Linked DNA regions of Homo sapiens. The protein of the gene in region 2 interacts with the protein of the main gene of each other region in a biochemical or structural test. Each region holds a gene or a part of one and is shown on either strand. Other genes may lie near its edges. The genes, in order: ITPR1 and AHCYL1.

Evidence for each region.
Region 1: the proteins of AHCYL1 (region 2) and ITPR1 form a complex in vitro, tested with the Homo sapiens proteins (one study listed by BioGRID).

The regions. Positions count from the first base shown.
Region 1 is NC_000003.12:4,667,686-4,680,902, forward strand, and holds part of ITPR1 (inositol 1,4,5-trisphosphate-gated calcium channel ITPR1), read left to right. Parts: intron 1-1,968; coding exon 1,969-2,088; intron 2,089-3,043; coding exon 3,044-3,241; intron 3,242-5,450; coding exon 5,451-5,702; intron 5,703-6,516; coding exon 6,517-6,658; intron 6,659-7,382; coding exon 7,383-7,563; intron 7,564-8,928; coding exon 8,929-9,116; intron 9,117-12,867; coding exon 12,868-13,006; intron 13,007-13,217. UniProt on the Homo sapiens protein: Inositol 1,4,5-trisphosphate-gated calcium channel that, upon inositol 1,4,5-trisphosphate binding, mediates calcium release from the endoplasmic reticulum (ER).
Region 2 is NC_000001.11:110,012,513-110,022,764, reverse strand, and holds part of AHCYL1 (S-adenosylhomocysteine hydrolase-like protein 1), read right to left. Parts: intron 9,869-10,252; coding exon 9,766-9,868; intron 8,003-9,765; coding exon 7,908-8,002; intron 7,341-7,907; coding exon 7,234-7,340; intron 6,422-7,233; coding exon 6,305-6,421; intron 6,099-6,304; coding exon 6,035-6,098; intron 5,271-6,034; coding exon 5,182-5,270; intron 4,820-5,181; coding exon 4,749-4,819; intron 4,393-4,748; coding exon 4,298-4,392; intron 4,214-4,297; coding exon 4,115-4,213; intron 3,891-4,114; coding exon of another isoform or gene 3,846-3,890; exon of another isoform or gene 3,715-3,845; coding exon 3,646-3,714; intron 3,218-3,645; coding exon 3,139-3,217; intron 2,035-3,138; coding exon 1,914-2,034; intron 1,092-1,913; coding exon 1,085-1,091; coding exon of another isoform or gene 1,039-1,084; 3' UTR 1-1,038. UniProt on the Homo sapiens protein: Multifaceted cellular regulator which coordinates several essential cellular functions including regulation of epithelial HCO3(-) and fluid secretion, mRNA processing and DNA replication.

The DNA.
Region 1 (13,217 bases), on a different chromosome or scaffold from region 2:
TGAGTAGTGGCAAGAACTTGGTGTTAAAATGAGACCTGGGGGTGCATTCCTAGCTCCAGTGTGTCCCACCTGGATGAGCTTGGGTTTTTTCCTGAACTTTAATTTCCTTATCTGCTAAATGGGTAGTTATGAAAATTAAATGAGAATAAACGCAGGTGACGTGCAGGCACTTAGTGGATGCAGAGGAAATGACAAATTGTTGGCCACTCATTCACTTTTTAAAAAATGTTCTTAATTTTAATTTTTAATTTTTGTGGGTACGTAGTAGGTGTATATATTTATGGGGTACATGAGATGTTTTGATGTAGGCATGCAATGTGTAATAATCACATTGTAGAGAATGGGGTATCCATCCCCTCAAACATTTATTTTTTGTTACAAAGAATTCAGTTCTATTCTTTTAGTTATTTTAAAATGTACAATTAAATTATTGACTGTAATTACCCCATTTACCTACAAACAGTAGGTCTTATTCATTCTGTAATTACCCAATTTACCTACAAACAGTAGGTCTTATTCGTTCTTTCTATTTTTTTTTTTTTTTTTTTTACCTGTTAACATCCCCACCTCCCCCCTGCCCTCCCACTATCTTTCCCAGCCTCTGGTAACCATCCTTCTACTCTGTGTCCATGAGTTCAATTGTTTTGATTTTTAGATCCTACAAATAAGTGAGAAGATGCGATGTTTGTCTTTCTGTGCTTGGCTTATTTCACTTAGCATTATGACCTCCTCCAGTTCCATCCATGTTGTTGCAAATGACTGGATCTCACTCTTTTCATTCCCTTTTTCTTTTTTTTTTTAAGATGGAGTCTCGCTCTGTCACCCAGGCTGGAGGGCAGTGGCGAGATCTCAGCTCACTGCAACCTCCGCCTCCCGGGTTCAAGCAATTGTTCTGCCTCAGGCTCCCCAGTAGCTGCGACTACAGGCACGTGCCACCACACCCAGCTAATTTTTGTGTTTTTAATAGAGACGGGGTTTCACCATATTGGCCAGGCTGGTCTTGAACTCCTGACCTCGTGATCTGTCCGCCTTTGCCTCCCAAAGTGCTGGGATTACAGGCGTGAGCCACCGCGCTCGGCCTCATTCACTTTTTAGCACCTCTTGCTTATCAGTTAAACACTCCCCTCCCTCAGTATAATCAGTAAGAGTCTTGCAAGTTCAGTTGTTGGTTGAGCGTTTTTATTATAGATTAGTGAATTCTATTGATTGTATCTCATTCACACAGATCTGCTCCTCTTTCGTACACCCTCTCCCCATTTCTTTCCCCTTCTCTTGTCCTTCTAATTAAGACCCATATTTTCAGTTGAAGCGGGAAGCAATTTACAATGTGGGTGTCACAAATGATTACAATGGAGCACGGACACAGTTGCTGTAAAAACACCTACTACCACCCTTGAAAATAACCCGCATTTTCTGGAGCCTGCTCAAGGGCTCAGGTAGTGAGCAATGGAAGCACTTCCGTTAATTATCTCATTTAATCCGCAGGACAGCCCTCAGAAGTGACACATTATCCTTTTCTGTAGACGAGCATCAATTAAAGCACAGTGAAATTAGTAATTTCCCCAAATGAACGCTCCATAGCAGAACTCCGCTAATAAGATCCTAACTGGGCTTCCAACACACGTAGCCAAACATCAGGGCGTTGCCTCTCACCACTGTGGTTCCCCTGTGTCTCCACCACACCTTCCTTATGTGAGCTGCTTTCTTGTCTTGTTCCTTCTTCTCATCTTTGCCTCATCACCTCTTCCTTGACCACAGCCACTCCTGTCTTTCCTTCTTGTTTCCTCTTCCTTCTTTCTGGCATGTGGCTTTCTGGTGATGCCATAAACATTGGCATCAAGACTTAGAATGCTGCTGACATGTCTTGGTAAAGGTATGTTGGACCTGTGCACTTAAGGAAGAATTGGGGTCCAGGAGCCTAACCTCTGCTCTATCTACAGAAAATGTTTTGTTTCTGTTTCTGTTTAGATTCTTAGATTACCTCTCCGACCTCTGTGTCTCCATGAACAAATCAATTCCAGTGACCCAGGAACTGATATGTAAAGCTGTGCTGAACCCCACCAACGCTGACATCCTGATTGAGACCAAGTGAGTGGGGAGCCAGGGTTTAGATGGAAAACATGGGGTTCATTCAGTGTTGGTGCTCATGAGGAATAAAACCTAGCCCTATCATTTTTTGAGTTGATCTAAAGTCAGTGTGGCTGGCATTTGATCTTCTTATTGGAAAAGTCTTGATTAGGAGAATTCCCGAATTTGATTTTGGTGTCACCTCCTCTTCATAGTGGTGTCACTTATTTTGCATACAAGTTTAGAAGTCATGTAAACTCACCGGGGAGCATTTTATACAGCTACATTTTAAGAGTTTAAAACTCTTTGTAAGTGTGACCATCAATTTAAAATTTCAAATGACATAATGAATATTCAGTGTTAAGATTAAGTCAGTGTTGGGAGGAGTTTTAAATTATTACTGTTCAGAACATGTTTATTGGTCTGCAGAATTTTTGTTACCAGTAGTAATTCATTTTTGGCAAAGGAGCAGTTTTCCTGAGAAGTACAGTGCCGGTAATATGGACAGCCTTAAAAAACATACTAAATTACGTCCTGAGCTAGTGATACTTCATTGATTCACATGTATAACTCAGTTTTGGGCTTGGGCTAATGCAGGGTTTTTCAGTTTAGGTATTTTCACATTTCGGGCTTGGTAATTCTTTGTTGTGGGGCTGTGCTAGGCACTGTAAAATGTTCAGCAGCATCCCTGGCCCCTACCCACTTAGATGCCAGTAGCACCTCTCCATTTCGGTTGTGACAACCAAAAACCTGTCCAGAGACATTGCCTGGTGTCCACTGGGGGCAGCAGCACCATAGTCGAGAACCACTGGGTTACAGTATATGAAGATGTTAATGTCAGGCTCTCTGCGGCTCTGCCCTTGGGGGAAATACAAAACAAAAAGTGTCTTTCCATGTGTCTTTATGCTGAAAGTAAAGCTAGATCTCAAAGTATTTTTAAAAATAGTAACTTTTCCCTCCTCCTCTTGTTTTCTAGGTTGGTTCTTTCTCGTTTTGAATTTGAAGGTGTCTCTTCCACTGGAGAGAATGCTCTGGAGGCAGGAGAAGACGAGGAAGAGGTGTGGCTGTTTTGGAGGGACAGCAACAAAGAGATTCGCAGCAAGAGTGTGAGGGAATTGGCTCAGGATGCTAAAGAAGGGCAGAAGGAGGACCGAGACGTTCTCAGCTACTACAGGTGCGTGGGACACGTGTGGGGCTCAGATTGGGGTGCCCCAAAACAGTGGCACTTAGGAATTTGTTGCTCGTTTGTTGATTACTTCAAGGAATCACAAGGAGTCATCTTGTAAGATTGTCTAGAAAAAAGCCAGATGTGTGTTTTAGGAGTTTGGAGTGTAAGATTTCAGTTAGTTGACATCTGGATGTGGCTGGTTCCCAAAAAGGATGAGTGCTTGCCTCAGTCCCTGGTGATAGTTTATCCTTCAGCAGCATGGCCCATAGATATGGTGGTAGGTACGTAAGAGGCAGGCTGTGGGGTCACATCCCTACCTCTCCGCTTACCAGTTTTTTGACATTGGCCAAGTTTGATTTTATGCTCTAATTTCTTTATCTGCAAAATGAAGGTGATAGTGCCAATCTCACCAAATGTTTATAGACAGAGACAGAAGATGTGTGTGTTTGTATACACATATATCTACACATTCATCCATGTATCTTTCTATAACTACACAAATATATAATAAAAAGCATGTACTTACACTAATACTTCCAATTCCATTCCAACACCATAGGATTTATTCTAGCCTTCACCTTTTCCATTTCATGACTCCCTCCAGCTGCCACGATTCCCTGTATGTTTACCCATCTGCCCGTTTCCCTGTGTGTACCTGTCTCACCTCTGCCACCCACCTCCACGGTCCCCAGTGTCTCCTTGGCTCCAGCTGTAAGACCTGCCAGTCCTGCCACCTGAAGGGAAGGGAAGGGGAAGAAAGAAAGGAAGTGAACCAATTAATACTTTTAAAAGAAAAGGAAAGGGAAGATAAAGCAAGGCTTTTATTATTTTTTAATAAAATAAATAAAACTGCAGATAAAATGCCTTTTCTTGCCTCCTGTATTCTGTTCTTTCATTCATGTGTGATGTACGCATCCTATCCACATTCTCTGTGTGCTGCATTTGTATGCATCTGTAAATCATATGTAGTATTTTATCTCTACTTAAAATTTTATATAAATGGGACTGTACTCCAAATACCATTCTAAAACTTGCCTTATTTATTCAATACGGGTACTGAAGCCATATTGAATATATCTGCGTTAATAGAGATTAATCCATTTCTGTAATTTGGACTGTTGGATGATATTCTGTTTTATTGATTTATCACATTTTCATCGCTGTTTGATATTTGATCACATGCTGCAGTTCTTCATGTCAGGAAACATCTTCATTCAAATTTTTCTGAGTATATGTATGAATTTCCATTCCACACTGGGAGGTGGGCTTGGAGGATATTCATATTTTAAGCTTTACTAAGCAATTCTAAATTGGATGTGTCAGTGTACACACCCACCAGTTGTAGACGACAAGCTTTGTTTCTTCATGTCTTTGTTAACCTTGAATATCATGATGCTTTTTAATTTTTGGTAATTTTATAAGTGTGAAATAGACTCATGTCTACACTTGCATTTCCCCGACATCTAATGAGGCTGAGAATGTCTTCAAATCATGATTATTAGAAATACATAGAGTTTTTAATTCAGAAGGCAGTATTTTGAAAGCCTGTGGCTTTCTCGTTATTTCACATTTCAAGTATGTTTACTCTTTCAGTGTTTGATGAATCTTCTCCCAAGTGAATGAGAAAGAGTGCCTTAATTGGTCAGGTTCCAGTTAACAACATTCACTTGCAATTGGATGAAGATGAAAAGTGAGGAGTCTCCTACTTTTGTAAATGAAATGTTTTTTTACACGTGTAGGAATTAGAGTGACTTACATGATATAAGATCTTTAAAATGTTATAAAATTTCTAATTAGGCTGAATATGTGTGATATCTTGAACATTTCCTACATGGTCTTTACTGTATAAAACACAGCTGAAGGGAAAGAAATAGACAACCATCTTAGGCCTTAGCATTCCCCCCGTTTATTTTAAAAAGTAAACATTAAGGACCTAGTGGAATTAGGTCGTCACATAATTGCTCCAACACAGCTGGATAGACATGTGTTCCTGTTGGCTGTCAACCCACACTCTACTGCACAGCTTGAATAGTTCTTTTATCTGCTTGGTACCAAAGCCAAAATCCTGGTATACAAGAGCAATTTAGGGGTGTTGATGTATGAGTTTAGTTGGCCAAATGTCACTCCCATGACAGTCAGGGCTGCCCAGACGACCCTTCATTCATCCTGAATGATTTCTGGAGCGTGAGCTGTGTGCCCTTGTTCCTTCCTCTAGATATCAGCTGAACCTCTTTGCGAGGATGTGTCTGGACCGCCAATACCTGGCCATCAACGAAATCTCAGGCCAGCTGGATGTCGATCTCATTCTCCGCTGCATGTCTGACGAGAACCTGCCCTATGACCTCAGGGCGTCCTTCTGCCGCCTCATGCTTCACATGCATGTGGACCGAGATCCCCAGGAACAAGTCACCCCCGTGAAATATGCCCGCCTCTGGTCGGAGATTCCCTCGGAGATCGCCATTGACGAGTGAGCCTGGCACCTGAAAACCTCACTTTACATTATTCTGTGCGGCAGTAGATAGCCCCATATGGTCTCATTAAATCTTAGAAGAAAGATGAAGTGTTGGTTTTTTCTTCAAGCTTAAAATAAAATTAAGTGGATGGCAAATATTTTTTTCCTCAAGAATGTGAAAGATGGCATGATTATGTTTTTGGTTTTTGTTTGTTTGTTTGTTTGTTTGAGATGGAGTCTCACTCTGTTGCCCAGGCTGAACTGCAGTGGCGCAATCTCGGCTCACTACAAGCTCTGCCTCCCGGGTTCGTGCCATTCTCCTTCCTCAGCCTCCCAAGTAGCTGGGACTACAGACGCCCACCACCACGCCCGGCTAATTTTTTGTATTTTTAGTAGGGACGGGGTTTCACCGTGTTAGCTAGGACGGTCTCGATCTCCTGACCTTGTGAGCCGTCCACCTCGGCCTCCCAAAGTGCTGGGATTACAGGCGTGAGCCACCGCGCCTGGCCCCGATTGTATTTTTTATATCTCATTTATCTCCTCTTTCATTCTGCAAATATTTAAGTGTGTACTATGTGCCAAGCTCAAGAAATATATCAGTGAACAAACTAGAAAGCAATCTCTATGCTAGTTGGTGGAAGACAGACAATAGGCAAGATAAACGACTCAAATATATAGTTGGTGATATATGCTAAGGAGGGAAAAAATAAAGTAGGGTCAAGGGATGCCAAGGGTTAGGGGATGTTGACTTTTGAAGCTGAGTGACCCAGGAAGACCTCTCTGGGAATAACTTGAAATTTTGTTTCCTTTCTTTCTCCTTTCTTTTCAGCTATGATAGTAGTGGAGCTTCCAAAGATGAAATTAAGGAGAGATTTGCTCAGACCATGGAGTTTGTGGAGGAGTATTTAAGAGATGTGGTTTGTCAGAGGTTCCCTTTCTCTGATAAAGAGAAGAATAAGCTTACGTTTGAGGTAACTCATGATGAAATCTTCTATGTGTATTATCTGCCTCTCAGTGGTCATTTTTCTATGGGGCAAATAGAAAATATGTGAGTAGGTTGTGATTTTGGTCATGATGCTCTGGTTTTGTAATGGAAAGGAATTCAGCTTGGTTTTGTTCCAGAATAAAATAAAACGGATACCAGTCACATGGCTTAATAGTAGTTATGGGCTTAAAAGAAATATACAAGGTGACTTGAACCACATAAAATGATAGAACATCACTTTGTGTTAAAACTGACAAGAGAGAAACACTGTGCTTGCAATCTGCCATAGCTTAATCATTTGCAGAACATAAATCCTTGTTACTTCTGAGTTAACAACGTTTCTGAGACTGCTTTTGCCTTTTAAGAGCTGTATTGCTGAGGATCGCAGAGTGTTATTATCTGTGTCCTTATTGGGAATAACTCTGCTTGCCTGGTGTTAATATTATCCTTGGGAAGCTGTGTAGAGCAAATGATGAGGTCTTTTTTTTTTTTTGATTAGTCATCAGAGCAGATCAGTAGCTTTCCATTTCTTATTTTTCCTCCTTATGAAACAAAATGAAAATTTATCAGAAAGTGCAAGGAAAATACATGCCTTCTCTTACCATAAGGAAGGTCCAAGTCTGTCATTTCTAAACTGGTCAACATCAAATGGAATTGAAGGGGATGCAGTTTATGTAATACCGTCTTCTTCTTTTATTTTAATACAATAGGTTGTAAATTTAGCTAGGAATCTCATATACTTTGGTTTCTACAACTTCTCTGACCTTCTACGATTAACTAAGATCCTTCTGGCCATATTGGACTGTGTACATGTGACAACAATCTTCCCCATTAGCAAGATGGCGAAAGGAGAAGAGAATAAAGGTAACAATGATGTGGAGAAGCTGAAGAGTGAGTATCTGAGGGTGCCCATACATCTGAGAGATGCCCTCCAGCCTTTCCTGTTATGCTCATGTCATACCCTATATGTGATGCCACATCCTTTCTTTGTTCATTCCTTCCCAACTTTTCATCGTGAACATTTTCAAATACTGTGTAAAGAAAAGCGGAAAGAACAGTACGATGGAGTCCCACGTACCCATGACTTTGAGTCAACAGTTATTCACGTTTTGCTGAATTTTATTTTGTATTTATGTGTATTTATGTGTATTTTATTTTGTATTTATGTGTTTATGTATGAGTCGTGTGTATATTTTGTTGAACAATTTGAAAGTTACTTAACACTTTGAATGTTTATATAACAAATACATGTCCTATCATTGTTCTTGACATTCGTGAGACCCTTGATAATAATATTTGTTTAGGATGTAAGAAAATCCAGGCTTCTATCTTGGTGGCTATTTCCACTTTGTGAGAAGGACAATCTGCCTTTGCATGTTTATTTCTTCCTCGTTTTAGGGTCAGAGTAGGCAGATATTGGTATCATGTATCAATTATTGTTAACTGGTCTTCTGCAGCTAGAACAGAAAGAAATACATTGACTTATCTCTATTTGCTAGGTCTTGTGCTGAGTCATGTTGCATTATACCATTTAGTTCTTTTGTTGAGCTCCTTTATTTCCATTTTGTAGATGAGGAGACTGAGGCTTAGAGGTAGTATGGTGCACCTAAGGTCAAGCAGCATCAGGATTTGTACCTTGTTAACTTTATGTACCTAGTTCTGTGCTCATAACAAGCACATAGTTGATGATCAATAAAATTTGGGCAGGGCATAGTGATTCATACCTGTAATACTAACATTTTGGGAGGCTGTAGCAGGAGGATTGCTTGAGGCCAGGAGTTCGAGACCAGGCTGGGCAATATAGAGAGAACCTATCTCTACCAAAAAAAAAAAAAAAATTAGCTGGGTGTGGTGATGCATGCCTATAGTCCTAGCTACTTGAGACGTTGAGGCAGGAAGATTGTTTGAGCCCAGAAGTTTGAGGCCACAGGGAACCATCATTGTGTCACTGCACTCCAGCCTAGGTGATAGAGGAAGATCCTGTCTCTAAAGAAAATTAAAAAAAATAAAATTTGATGGGCAAGTTAGTGCACAGAAATGCCCCTCTGGGGATTTTGAAGCCCGTGATCTTTCTGTTGCTCTCAGAAGCCCAGATTTTTGATGTGCATTTACCTTTCCAGGTTTCCAGGGTCCTGAGATTATGTTGGAATAGGGATATGTTAAATAATTTCTCTCAAAGAGCCCCTGCCCCTTGACATATGCCTCTGAGCATTCTCTAGAGACATTGTGACCGTGGTCTCTCCTGGCCTTTCCTAGGCAGTAACGTGATGAGATCTATTCATGGCGTGGGAGAGCTGATGACCCAGGTGGTGCTCCGGGGAGGAGGCTTTTTGCCCATGACTCCCATGGCTGCTGCCCCTGAAGGCAATGTGAAGCAGGCAGAGCCTGAGAAGGAGGACATCATGGTCATGGACACCAAGCTGAAGATCATTGAGATACTCCAGGTATCCACTAGCTGGAGCTGGGGTAGGGAGGGTATGTCACAGAGGCGCCATTCAGATCCAGTCCCTCTGTTCTGATGGAGCCCAAGGCTTTCTGGGAAGAAAATGGGGGCAAATCCTTAGCTCATCCCTCCGTGTCATTTATGAGCTGGCTCCTCTTAATCCCTTTACTGCTTTCTCCTACCCTCCCAACATGGCCATGTCCCTCCAGCCATGTCAAGACTTGCCATTGTTATCTTAGCTTTCCATGATCATTGGCCTCCATGCCAACCCTCTGCCTAGAATTCACTTACCTCTGTGTCTCCATGTAGCTGCATCTCTGCTTATTGATCATAACTAGGTTCAGGGTTCCATCAACTTTGCAAAGCCTTCCTCCCTTCTTCCCTTTTTCATTCAATCAACAAATATTTATTGAGACCAACTCTGTGCCAAGTCCCCTTAAGCACTGGGAGGGTCCAGCAATGAAAAAAATAGATGAAATTCCTGCTTCTCTAGAATTTACATTTTGATAGAGGGGCATGGGCATGTATTAAGAATAAGTGCTAAGAGACGTTAAAAAGTAAAGGAGGGTCAGGATTGTTTGGAGACACTGAGGACAGGGGGCTGGGGTTATTGTGTTTGGTGAGGTTATCAGAGAAGGCCTCTCCAGTACAGTGACATGATTACACACCTGAATGAAGTGAGGAGATAGCCACACAGATATCTTGGGAAAGGGTATCTGAGGCAGAGGGAGCAGCAAACACAAAGACCCCATGGTGAAGAGGGCACATTTGGGAACAGGTGGGGTTCAAGAGGGAATGGGAGAAGATCAAGTCGGGGAGTAAATATATATAGCTTCTTGGACAGATTGCCTGTAAGGATGCACAGAGAAGTGGGGACATGGGCAGAGAGCGATTGTTGGTAACATGGTTTATTTTTGTTGTAATATTTTTTAAGTGGGTGGGTTATAACAAGCTTGTATGGTGAATAGGAATGATCATGTATACAGGGAGAGTTTGTTGCTGTTTGGGGAGAGAATAATTGTAAGAGCAAAGTCCTTCTGTAGGCAAGCGGGGGTGGAATCTAGTATATAGGGAAGGCTTGGTCGTAGGCATGAAACCCTCCCAAGCCTCTCTACAGCTTTGAACCCCACCCGACAACCTGCGCTTCCCTCTTTCTGTGCCGTGTAGGTAACTTTTATTCATCAACAAAATCATCTGCTCCTTAATGGAAAGAATTATGTGTTAGCACCTTCTTTTTTTTTATCCCATGTTGCCTGATCTCAACCCCAACAGATGTAGTAGAAATTCATAAATGTTTAAGATCTGGGGGTTTTATTTTTTAGTCTGAAATCACCCTTTACCAATGCTTTGAAAGTTTTAATGGGTTGTCTCAAAGTCATGTAATTAGGACGATAAAGACAGCTTAAGTAAAGGAGAAATCTTACTGAATTTATGCCTGAGCAACAGTAGAGAAAGATTCCTTTTTTAAAACTTTATTTTTTAATAAATTTTATTTTTACTTTTATTTTCAATTTTTTTTGTCGAGACAAAATATACATATAAAATTTGCAGGCCATGGTCCATGTGTTCCAAAGTGGTGTCTTGGACGTTTATCAGAAACGACGCAGTGCAAAACTTGGTCACATCTTGAGGTCCACTCACCGTGGTGACCTAAGAAGGATTGGTCGATTGAGTCATTCTTTCCACGGGTACTTATTGACTCCCTACCATGTGCACTGTGAGGAATGCAAAAATGATTCGAACAGGGGCTCCATCCACAGGGGTTTATAGTCTGATGGGAGAATAAGGTATGATGAAGCTGCGTGGATGTGGAAATAAAACCACCAGAAAGTTCTTCTGAGACTGGAGTCCGGGAGTGGGGTCATGTGACTCCACATGGTAAAGATCAGAGAAGGGTTGATGGAGGAGGTAGGGTTTCATCTGAGCCTTTAAGGTGCATGGGCTTTGTACATGGAGAAACAAGGGCCCGTTCTCAGGTGGATGGAGCAGCCTGAAGCCGAGTACCATGGGATGCAGGTCAGTGGGCAGTTCTTGCTGAGCAGAGACATAGAGTGTGCTGAGGGGAAGTTGTCAGAAGTGAGTTTGGAAAGGAGGACCAAGCCACACTGCACAGAGCTTTGGGTGTCTAAAATGCTAAGGCTTATTCTCTGTTGAGCCTTTGAAAGTCTTCAAGCGGGAGCTTAACATAAGAACAAGTGGTTAGGAGGCTGATTTGGTGAATTTGGTTCTGTAAATGGAACAGGCAGGAGATAATGAGGCCTTGAGCAGGGAGAAACGGCAGTAGGGGAGAACTCTATGAGAAGCGGTAAATGGAGAACCACCAGGACTTAGTCTCTGATTAGATGTGTGTCCAGGAAGGAGGCGCTGATGATCAGGCAACTGACTGAGGTTGAGGAAACCCAGGCAGAAAGTAGATGAAGGCAAGACTGACAATGTTAGTGTGTTAGCGCTCTCCAGAGAAACAGAACAAATAGGATACATACAGATAGACAAGAGGGGGTTTATTATGGGAATTGGCCTCACGCAGTTACGGAGGCCGAGAAGTCCCCCAGTCTGCCACAGCAAGCTGTGTCCCGGGAAAGCCAGTGGTGTGATTCAGCCTGAGTCCCAAGGCTGAGAACCAGGGGAGCTGAAGGTGTAACTCTCAGTCTGAGGCCAAAAGCCGGAGAACCTGGAGCTCTGATGGGCAGGAGAAGATGAGTGTCCCAGCTCCAGAACAGGTGGATTCGGTCTTCCTCCACCTGTTTGCTCTATCCAGGCCCTCCGTGGATTGGATGGTGCCCACTCACACTGGGTGAGAGCGGATCTTCTTTACTCAGCTCACTGATTCAAATGCCAGTCCATTCTGGAAACCCCCTCATAGATTTACCCGGAAATAAAGTTGTACAAGCTGTCTAGGTGTCCTTGAACCCAGTCAAGTTGGCATATAAAATTAACCATCGCAGTTACTTTTGTGAAACACTGAGTTTGAGGCCCTGGGAAGATAGCAAATAGGATGTCCAACAGTCTGTAGGACACATACACTGAGAGCATGGAGGCAGGCCAGAGACCTATCTCCCTCTGGAAGAGGTGATGGCCACTGGACTGGGAAAGGTTGCTGGGAGGCTAAGCAGAGACAAGGGGAGAACGGAAGGAAGAACGTGAGTGAGATCCCTACATGATGTCAGCTGCTCAATCTTTCTTTTTGGTTCTAGCAGCAATCCTGGGAAAAGTGACCCTGTGTTGGAATAAAGGGTGAGGGAATACAGGAGGCAAAAGAAGAGGGTGTCCAAGGGTTTGTACCCAAACCAGGGGAAACAACCAGAAACAGGAAATAGGAACCAAGCTAATTTTCCATAGTAAAAAACAAATTTTTTTTTGTTAATTCTCTTAAATCCAAAGCAGGCAACTTCACTCTTTTCAGTGTTAGGCCCAGAGTTGACATTCAATACTTACTGAAATGGAGTCTTGTTTTATAGACTCCATTTATGGAGCCAGGAGTGAGTGATTTAGTGTTCCAATTGTTAAATTAATTGCCAGGATGCTGAAGCTTACACTAGAGGCTAAGGTGCTATGGGCAGACTTCATATGCCCCATGGAAGTCTGCTGTTGTTAAAATGACTGTTGAAATCTAAGCCAAATACTTGGCTCACTTAGTGCTTAAGGTAATTGATGCAGCTGATACCAGGCCCCGCCAGTGTGTGGTGGCTTGGCAGAGTCAAGATGGTATGTTAATGTAACCAATCTGTTTCCATTTCCACTTGAATCTTTAGTTTATTTTGAATGTGAGGTTGGATTATAGGATCTCCTGCCTCCTGTGTATATTTAAGCGAGAGTTTGATGAAAGCAATTCCCAGACTTCAGAAACATCCTCCGGAAACAGCAGCCAAGAAGGGCCAAGTAATGTACCAGGTTAGTGATTCAGAATGGAATTTCAGCCATAGAATGGGACCTGGCTCTAAGGAAAATGGGGAGAGCAAACAGTATCTTCTAGAAAAAGGGTGAAAATGGTTTTGAGGATTATTGCACCAGGGCATCATCCTGGCAGTTACTCTTTTTGAGCAAGTGAATAATTGATAGAGCCCAGATTCCTTCTGGGTTGGATCTTGTTTCCTTCCATCTG
Region 2 (10,252 bases):
TCATTCCTCCTCCTGCCCACACCTACCTCCCTTTAAATATTTTAGGTTGCAGAAGCACAGCTGACCAGAAATTTGCTCTTAAAGATAAATCCTAAAGATAGAACTCAGTGCTTTATACTGAGTAATGGCTCAAGAAATTCGCCTTCAGCACAAGCTGTATGGTACACAGCTGATAGAATTTGCTGTTGTGGCTCCAGTTCACTGATGCTATGAACTACGGGCTAGAAACAGAGGGACTTAACAGGGCTTGAGACTAGCATTTCTCTAGACTCAGCATCCTTAGCTCCAAAGGTTCAAAAGAGAAATTGGTAACAACTAACCACTCAAGCAATTCCTCAGCATTAACACCAAAAATTCTCCTTAATTTTTCTTTTCTTTTTTTTTTTTTTTGGACAACAGAAATAAATCCTAGAGGACAAAATTAAACTCAATAGAGTGTAGTCTAGTTAAAAACTCGAAAAATGAGCAAGTCTGGTGGGAGTGGAGGAAGGGCTATACTATAAATCCAAGTGGGCCTCCTGATCTTAACAAGCCATGCTCATTATACACATCTCTGAACTGGACATACCACCTTTACGCAGGAAACAGGGCTTGGAACTTCTAAGGGAAATTAACATGCACCACCCACATCTAACCTACCTGCCGGGTAGGTACCATCCCTGCTTCTCTGAAGAAGTGAAAGAGCACTGATTTCAGCAGCTAAGAAATGGGCTCTTTTAAGGCGATTTAGACATTGCAGATTGTTCCACAGAGAAGGTACCTTAGCATTTCCTGTTAATAAGGTACCTAATTAAGACTAAAGTCCCCAGAAATGGTAAAGAAAGAATCACCTTTCTGGGCTGGGAGAGTAAAATCCTTCTTTAGTGACTAGAGTGAGGAACCCTGAACTTCTATTTCATCTAAAGAGCCATGAAGCAAGTTCCTGTGTGGTCTGCAGAACTTGGATAATGAGATGAAAAAACAAGAATGAAATTATAGGAAAAAAATCAAGAGGAAAGGAGTAAGAAGAAAATAAAAGTTATCTTAAAAAATATTTCTTTAGAGTGTGTGGTTCAGGTGGACTGGTCCTTGGTAGTATGGTCCATTAGTATCTGTAAAGAGAGAGAGTGATTGGTTAACACTTATGTCTTCCATATGAGAATTCCAAAAAACAATCGGAAACAGAGCACCTTCTCCAGGGCCCCTCCCCAGCCTGGGTGGGATCCCTGCAGTCATTCCCCAGGGCACCAGTCTCCCTTATTCTTCCACAGGGTCTCTGACAATGCCATTTCTGGTGTTACCGCCTGTTCCCAGGAATGAGTCAGTGTTTTTTCAACCCTGACTAAACATTACAATAATCTGGGGAGGTTTTACAAAATAATGTTTTGTAAATTTGGTCCCATCGCAGACCAAATATATCAGAATCTCTTAGGGTGAGGCCCAGGCTCCAAAATTTCAAAAAAACCCTAACTCCCTGATATCTCCCACAATTTCTCTATCTACCTTGTTAACTGGAACAGTTTTTTTGTTTGTTTGTTTGTTTTTAAGACAGAGTCTCACTCCATCACCCAGGCTGGAGTGCAGTGGCATGATCCCAGCTCACTGCAACCTCCGCCTCCCAGGTTCAAGTGATTCTCGTGCCTCAGCCACCTGAGTAACTGGGATGACAGGTGCCCGCCACCACACCCGGCTAAGAGATAGGGTTTCGCCATGTTGGCCAGGCTGGTCTTGAACTCCTGACCTCAAGTGATCCATCCGCCTAGGCCTCTCAAAGTGCTGGGATTACAGGCGTGAGCCACCGTGCCTGGCCTGGAACAGATTTCTTGTATTCTTCAAAATCAGGTACAACATTTGATCTTTATGTCAGAAGCAGGCTAGCCTGCTTGGTTTAATACTGGGAAAAAGAGCTTTTCACTTGCTTCTCCCCAGGTTACCTGTAATAATTAGGTTTGAATGGCCCATTTTTGTTGAGTCCCAGATATTTTGCTTGGTCATCTGTCAGCTCTGTAAGGTGGGCATCAAATGATGGCAGATGCAAGCTGGCAACGTATTCATCTAGGAAGAGCAAAGTGGCAGGAGAGCAGACTCCTTTTCAAAATGTCTCTCAAGTTATAACTTCCCATTTTCATTTGAAGCTTTTTTAAGAAAGCAGACAAGGGATGGAATAACTCTGAAAGAATCCACAACTTGAAATATTTGCTTAATTAAAAAAAAAACCTCAAAGCTGCCTTTCTGGGCAGGATGCTTCTCTCAGCACATGTACAGTGCGTTCAGAAAAGCCACTTACCAGGGTAACAAAAGGGAGTGGGCTTTTACCTCTCTATCCTTCTCTGGCAAAGCAGGGGGCTTCCCTGCAGTGGCCCACATGTCACATGCTACTCCTACCTTCCTGCAGCAACCTCCTTAACTAGATTATAGTCAAATTAGCAATCAAAGTGGACACCAGTAAGCTAGAAAGACCCTGTGTCAATAACACTCATTTAGGATAAGATCCATGGATCTTAGGATCATGAATTTCTAAGGTAGTCGGCACAGAATTTTTACTTTTCCATAGATAAGCTTCCCTTTTATAATTATACACTGAAAAAAAAGTCTGAAGTAAGCTATTGGAGGAGAGGAGAGCAAGAAGTATTTTAGCATTAAGAAGTCAGGGATTTGGGCTAGCCAAGGAGATATGGGAGATGGGTACACCGTGCAGAAAGGCAAAGGACTAGAGATGATGTATTATGTCACATGAACACAGCATGGGTTGCTTACAAGAGATTGGATGGTTTGCATATCCTCACAGAAAATGGACAATAAAACCTGTGTTTGTTTCTCTCATTTTGTTCCAAGGCTGTATGTACTCAGCTGCACTGGGAAGTTTACTGAACTTCATAAGGCTACTTAGAGTAAGAACATCTCCCTAAACCATTGTGTTAAGCACTGTTACTCATTAGCTGTGATTCTCACACAATTCTACAATGTATGTAGTATTATTTTCATTTTACCAATCAAGAAACTGAGGATCATAGAGATTAGAACTTGTCCTGAGGTCAAACAACCAGTAAGCACAGGAACAGGAATTGGAACTCTGACTCTAAATCCAATGCCTTTCATGGCAGTCATTTTACCAAACTATGCAGCTGTCTGCATAGATTTCCACTGTTTTTCACTCACCCATTTTCTTAGGAAGCAAGTACACATCCTGCTTGTATCGCCCCTCGGGTGCATTATAGAGTTCTATCAGTGCCAAAGCCTAAGGTGGGAAAAGAAGGCCAGAAAGCACAAAAATATTTCTTAGACAGGCACATAAAAATAAAACCAGGTTAAACAGCATTTGGGTAAGTACTACAGTGATCTACCACAGTCACAGTACCTAGGACTTTGCCTATACTAAAGGGCAGCACACATCCTAAGAGGATTTGTTGTTTTTGTTTAGTTCCTAACGAAAGAACAAATCAAATAAAACTAAGCTGGAACATTATATTCTCAACTAAAACAGCCAATTCAACGAATACTGACTTAGTGACTCTTTTCTATACTTAAGAATACCTGTTTCCACAATTTATTACATCAAAAAAGAATAGGATGATGAGAACATAGTACAGTACACCCTCACTGGAACTGATCTACGCCCAGTTCCACAAATTGCAGTGCAGTGTAAGCAGGCATTTTGCCACATACCTGTGTTGTGGCTGTGATGGACAGAACAAAGGTGGGAACTGTGGAGCAGCTCAAATTGAGTAGACGACCCTGGAAAGGTAAGAGAGAGCCCTGGGATGAGCTCTGTCTCAGATTCCAATGGCATACAAGTCAAGCCAAAGCGGGAGAGGACTTTACACCCCTCTAGACTCAGTTGGAAGAGGAAGAATTACAGTTCCAGATCAGGACTCTAGGCTTTTTCCTATTTTCTGCAAATCCATCTGAGTCTGAAAGGTTAAAGAATCAGCTGTGGTTAGGAAATAGTGTTACTTAGTAAAAAGTAGATTTTTTTAAAGTGGTTTTATTTTGGGGACCAATTTGTGAAATATCTCTCTCTCCAAAGATAAAATTCAGGGAAACATAGGCCTAATATTTGTTTCCCTCCCCTCCCCCCTCATAGATCTAACTACTCTGCTTGTGCTGCTCTGCCAGGGTCCTTCTCTGTGTGTACCTCTGCCAGGAGGACAACTCGTTTGCCATCTGGCCAGATGACATGGTCCACCTGAGAACGTACTCGCTCCCACGTCAGCTCCGGAGTGCGGAGGCTGGTCTGAAAGGAAGAAAGCACAGTTGACTATGGTTATTAATGAAAGGTAGTAGAGAAATGCCTAGCAACAAATGAGAGAAGCCTTACCACATCGATTTCTGTGTTGGAGTGGCCCATATTGCATACGATACAACTGTTTTTCATGCGATCCAAGTGCTCCCGTGTCACTACATTCTTATTTCCTAAAAGAAAAGATGGGTGGTTAAGGAAAGAGATGCCGGGCAACAAAGGTACTGGCTGGCTTTCAGGTAGAACATAGGAGACCAGAGGCTTGCTGGCATTAAAGAACATGTAGACATTCTGAGAGAAGACATGCATAACCGCTCCTTAGGCTATCTGGTCTTCAGATCAAGCAGTATAAAAAGTCACCAGGGAAAAAAGTTTTTTACTCTGGAAAACATGTTAAGGTTCTGATAGCTTATTCTAGTTCTGAGACCTTTATACTGAACAGAGGTCTCACCTCCTTTGTATGAAAGTCACTCAGACTACTTTCAAGATTTAGCCTCTGAATAAACACTTCTCTATGCAAGTTATTTACCTGTGCAAGTTATTACGACATCGACTTGCCGGATGACTTCATTTAGCTTTACCACCCTGAACCCATCCATGCTGGAAGAAAAGAAAGGAACACTATGAGTAAAGCAAGAAGGCAGTGGGAGGGAAGATGGTCATGAAATGAGACAAGATCCCCTTCTAGTTGGATCCAGTGCCACCTCACAGGAATGGTGAGTGATAAGCTCTGCTAAACTATATACACTGGCCTCTTCAGAGTCCCCAAGACTCCCTCTAGGAAGGAAAAATGCCAAGAGGCTCTCAGAGAGCCCTAGGGTTAGAGTGAGAAGAACAGAGCAGTCCTAGCCTTCTCTTCCCCTAGGTGATTTCTGCAAAAATGATTAATATACTCAATTATGAACTCTCAATAACATAAAGCACCTAGAGTGAATCTAATAGTATTATCACTCTGTTCTTACCAGGCCTGCAGAGCACAGATGGGGTCGATTTCGGTAATGTAGACAATTGCTCCAAGAGCTTTGAGAGCAGCACAGCAGCCCTTGCCTACCTGCAGAACAAAAGAAAGGTCAAGTCGTTAGGTTCATTAAGTCATGGATATTTAGGGTAGGTAGGTTATTTGTGAGACAGGAATTAACCTTCATGAAATAGCCTGTCATCTGGTGAGCAGCTGCACAGACGCTCCAATCCCAAGCAGAACAGAAACAGACCCAGATTACGTTGTGAACCTCAGTTAGAGAGGTAATTTAGCAGACATGTCATAGGAAGGACTGGGGCTTTGCATAGCAGTTTTCATCAGGGAAACAAGACTAAGCAAAAGCAACTTACTCTAAGCAACCTCTAATTTCCTATTCTCTTACTTGAGAAGAATCTACTCAAGGATACCCTCGTAGCTCAGGAACTTCTTTGGGTCATTGCTGAAGACAACAAAATATGTGACCTATTCCAGTTTGGAGATATTCAACTATATGCCATTTCAGATTCCACCCTTAATTCTACTGCAAGTCACTTGTGGGGCTAAAATGCTATATATTCACTTGAATTAAGTCTCATTAAAGGTTATTGTTATAATTGGGGAAGATGATACTAGTATCTATTCCACAAGGCAAAATGGTAAAATCTGAAAACTCAATTCATTTTGTATGTTTCTATTCATAAATCTGAATAAAAGGCTTTTGCTATTGTTTGAGATACATTATCTAAAAAAATTTAAACCTTGTATCAGTGACTCTAGATTGACAGCACAAGCCTCCTTTACCCAATATTTCTAATAAGTACACAAAAAGAAAGAGACACTGAGACCCAGCTATTTACCTCACCATAGCCACACACCACCACTTGTTTCCCACCAAACATCACATCTGTGGTCCTCTTCAGGCTGTGGAAACAGACAAGGGCTCAACTCAAACGTTAATAGCTCAAACTCAGTCCCTCTTCACAAAGTTAAAAGTGTGGGCCAATGCCCATGAGAATATCAATTGGAAGCTGGTTGAGCTCAGTATGAAATGGTCCCTCTAATAAACTTTTAAAGCCAAAGGAAGACCAGAGCCCCTAGAAGTTTGAATATATATACATTCAACCTACCCATCCAAAATGGATTCTCGGCAGCAGTACAAGTTATCAAACTTCTGTTTGGTAACAGAATCATTGACGTTCATGGCCGGAACACAGAGCTTCCCAGCTTTGGAGAGCTGATACAGCCTAAAGAGAGAAGAGGTCACAAAAACAAACAAAAACCAAGTTAGCTGGCACAACATAATTTGTGGCAAAATCTGCCTAATTCTCTTCAAGTTCCATGCTGCCCTTCCCAGTCTCATTTATTGCCCAAGGATATTAGAAAACATGATTATTTCCTTGTCATCCCTCCACACTTCTTTTCATTTTCTTCTCCCTTTACCCCTTTTTTGGAAGAAAAAAAAAAGCCTTTCAATTGAAGAAATGTACTTCTCTTCCCTTTATAGGGAGTGTTATTTCCTTTGATCAGCATTTTTCAATAGAAACCCATGCCTACTTCTGATAAACAAAGACTATCAATGATTCTGATATGGTTCCGTGTGTGTGTGAGTAAGCATGCGCAATGTGCCCCCAAGAAACACTCTTTCAGATATCTTTTCAGTATTCCAACAAGCCAAGAATATTTTGCCCAGTTTTACTTTTTGTAGTGTGTATAACATGTAGTTTTACAATAGGATTGTTTTTCATATTTCAAATATAAAATGATAATACAATATTGAATACAGTTTTTCAAGATACATTTATTCCCTACCCGCCCCTCAACACTAGTTGAGAATCACTCAATGGAGTAAATGGGAGAGAAAAATGTATGAACTAGAACCTGAAATAACTTCCTTCTAGGATCAACTTGATTTTTCAAAAGTAAAAACTCAAAATTTTATCTAATGAAGATATTCCCATTTAGTTATAAGTCTGAAACACAGTCCTAAAGCCTAACAGAGACCAGGAGAGTTTGCTGAGGCAAGGACACAAGGGGCAGCTACTCCAGAATCTGTTACCTGTGAACACCAGTCACGCTCTCTTCCACAATGCCTCGGATCTTCTTAAACACGTTTGGATACTTCTTATAAACCCAGTGGGTTAAGTCTCCCCCATCATCCAGGATCTATAGAACAGCCAGAAGACTTCTATGGGCATTCAGGCTGCTAGGGCTGGGGGGAACTTTGAACCCACTTTCTGTACTAGTAAGAGAGCCCTGTATGTTTTGGAAGAGTACTCCTCAGAGCTCCCTAGAGCAGGCTTAGAGAGTGGAAATACAGTCAAATTTGTTGGTGTAAAATGGTTAAAAGGATTCCTAGGTTTGCTTTAGGCTACAGTGATGAGTATTAAGCTAATCACAGACTCATTTTTAGTCTAGAGTCTTGAAATATATAGCCCCTTTGAATGCAAAAGGAGAACTGGGGCAGGAAGGAAAGAAAGCAGAATCCTACTCCAAAGAAGCACCACTATTTTGTTCTGGTGTGTTTGAGCCATGTGTTCAGCTAGTCTTACCCTTCCCCCACCTTTCCATTCAGTACTCAGACCCATTCTGAATAGGTATCAAGCTAAACACTTTAGCAACAAAGTCAGTGCATAAGACCAAACATCCAAAACATATTTAGGGAACCATGCTTTGAGGGAAAAAAAGGAAATAAATCTATTGTCAAAGTGTAGGATGTATATGCATTATTACCATGTTGGCCTGCCACCCATCCATGTTCACACAGCGGTCAATACACCACCAGAAGTCATCTTCTGACTCGCCCTTCCAAGCGAACACTGCAACTCCTGTAGAGACAGAAATGAATCAGCTGATTCCTCCTTTGAGGAGTGTCCTGTACCAAATCACTTTCTGAGATCCATGTGAAGAGAAAAAGGCAAAAGAAACAATTTCAGAAGGGAAAAAATTCAGAGCCAAAAGTCAAAGAATCACTTTTGGTTCAGAAATTAATTAGGTTAAGAAATTAAGGAATTTTTGCTTTAAAAGTAGTTTGGAACCTTAAAGTGTTCCTTTCTCTGGACTAATTTTATACTTAGAAGGAGATAAAATGAAGTGGGAATTAATAAAAGTTGTTAACTGGAGCATTATTGATATTAGTAAACATCTTGAAACAACCTAAATGTTCTCCATTAGGAAAATAGTGAGGTGAAATCACATAGCCATATGAATGACTATTACAAATGATGCTGTCAAAGTTTTCAGTGACATGGAAAACTACGTCTGAAAATATTGTATTTAGGTTATAAAACTGTATACATATTAGAATTTATGTAAAGTAGAAGAAAGGAAAAGGAAAAACATTAATCAAATACTCTATGTAGTGGGATTGTAGGGTTTTGGGGAACTTCCTAAATTTTTTGCAGTGAACACTTATCAGAAAAGAATAAACAAAAAAACCCAAAAGTATTATAAAGTTGCTTTCTGAGGATCTTAAAAAGATGAGAGGTCCGGCTGGGTGTGGTGTCTCACGCCTGTAATCCCAGCACTTTGGGAGGCCAAGGCAGGCAGATCACTTGAGGTCAGGAGTTCGAGACCAGCCTGGCCAACATGGTGAAACCCCATCTCTACTAAAAATACAAAAATTAGCTGGGTGTGGTGGCATGCCACTGCAATCCCAGCTACTCAGGAGGCTGAGGCATGAGAATCACTTGAACCCAGGAGGCAGGGGTTGCAGTGAGCCGAGACTGCGCCATTGCACTCCAGCCTGGGCAACAGAGTAAGACTCCATCTTAAGAAAAAAAAAAAAAGAAAGAAAGATGAGAGGTCCTCAAAGAAACTTCACGGTGATTTTCTTCTGAATATTTGAATAATAAAAATTATTATTATTGTTATTAATTTTTGAGATGGAGTTTCACTCTGTCGCCCAGGCTGCAGTGCAGTGGCATGATCTCGGCTCACTGCAGCCTCTGCCTCCCAGGTTCAAGTGGTTCTCCTACCTCAGCCTCCTGAGTAGCTGAGATTACAGGCGCACACCACCACTCCCGGCTAACTTTTGTATTTTTAGTAGAGGTGGGGTTTCACCATGTTGGCCAGACCGTTCTTGAACTCTTGGCCTCAAGTGATCTGCCCGCCTCGGCCTCCCAAAGTGCTGGGATTATAGGCGTGGGCCACCAGGCCTGGCCTGAATAATAAAAAATTATTTTACGTTTAATTAAACTCACAAATAGCTCATATATTTTCAATGCCATACTGAATACCAAATTATTTAATGCACTATCAATATGAAAGGTACTTCTTACTTGTGCTCTCTCACAAAATTGATGGCACTTATATAGTTTAACATTCTTCCTCGTTCAACTAACACTAGAACTGGGCATGACCCCATGCCATTAGATTATTTTCAAAGGCCATTTTTAATGACTACATAATATTCCACCATGGATATCCATCTTAATTTTATTATCCACTTTCTTCCTGTTGAGGTTTTTATCATGCACAATTTTATAGCCTCTAGACATATATGATATTGTAATGACAATTTTGATACAAAAAAGTTATATGTTTGGATAACTATTTTGGGGCAAAGTTGGTGGGAAAAAACCGAACTTACCAGCCTCAGCCAGTGCTGCAGCTACTTCATTCTGAGTTGAGTAGATGTTACAAGCAGACCAGCGGCACTGAGCCCCCAGGGCACAGAGTGTCTCAATCAACACCTGTGTAGAAGTGTAGGAAGACAGGGTGAGGAAGAGAAGGGCCACCCAGGAATGGAGAGCAAGCCTCATCAAGATAGCAATACCTATCAACTCTGCACCAACAGGTGCTACACTGGAAAGTTACAAAAGGGTGTACTCCAGCGAGGTGGTGCACTGGTATTTAACTTTGCATAAAACATAGGTTTCTAAAAGTCTTTATAACATTTTATAACAATCATATGTTTGCAAATCTAGACTTTCCTAGGTCAAGTTTGCTGAAAGTGGGTTTACATATTAAAAAAAAACCCAGAAAACCCCATTATTGTGTAACAGGGAGATCCTATTAATAGTTAGCATTTGGAGGTTGGCGAGTTAGGAAAGGAAAAGTGAAAAAAAAAAAATTGA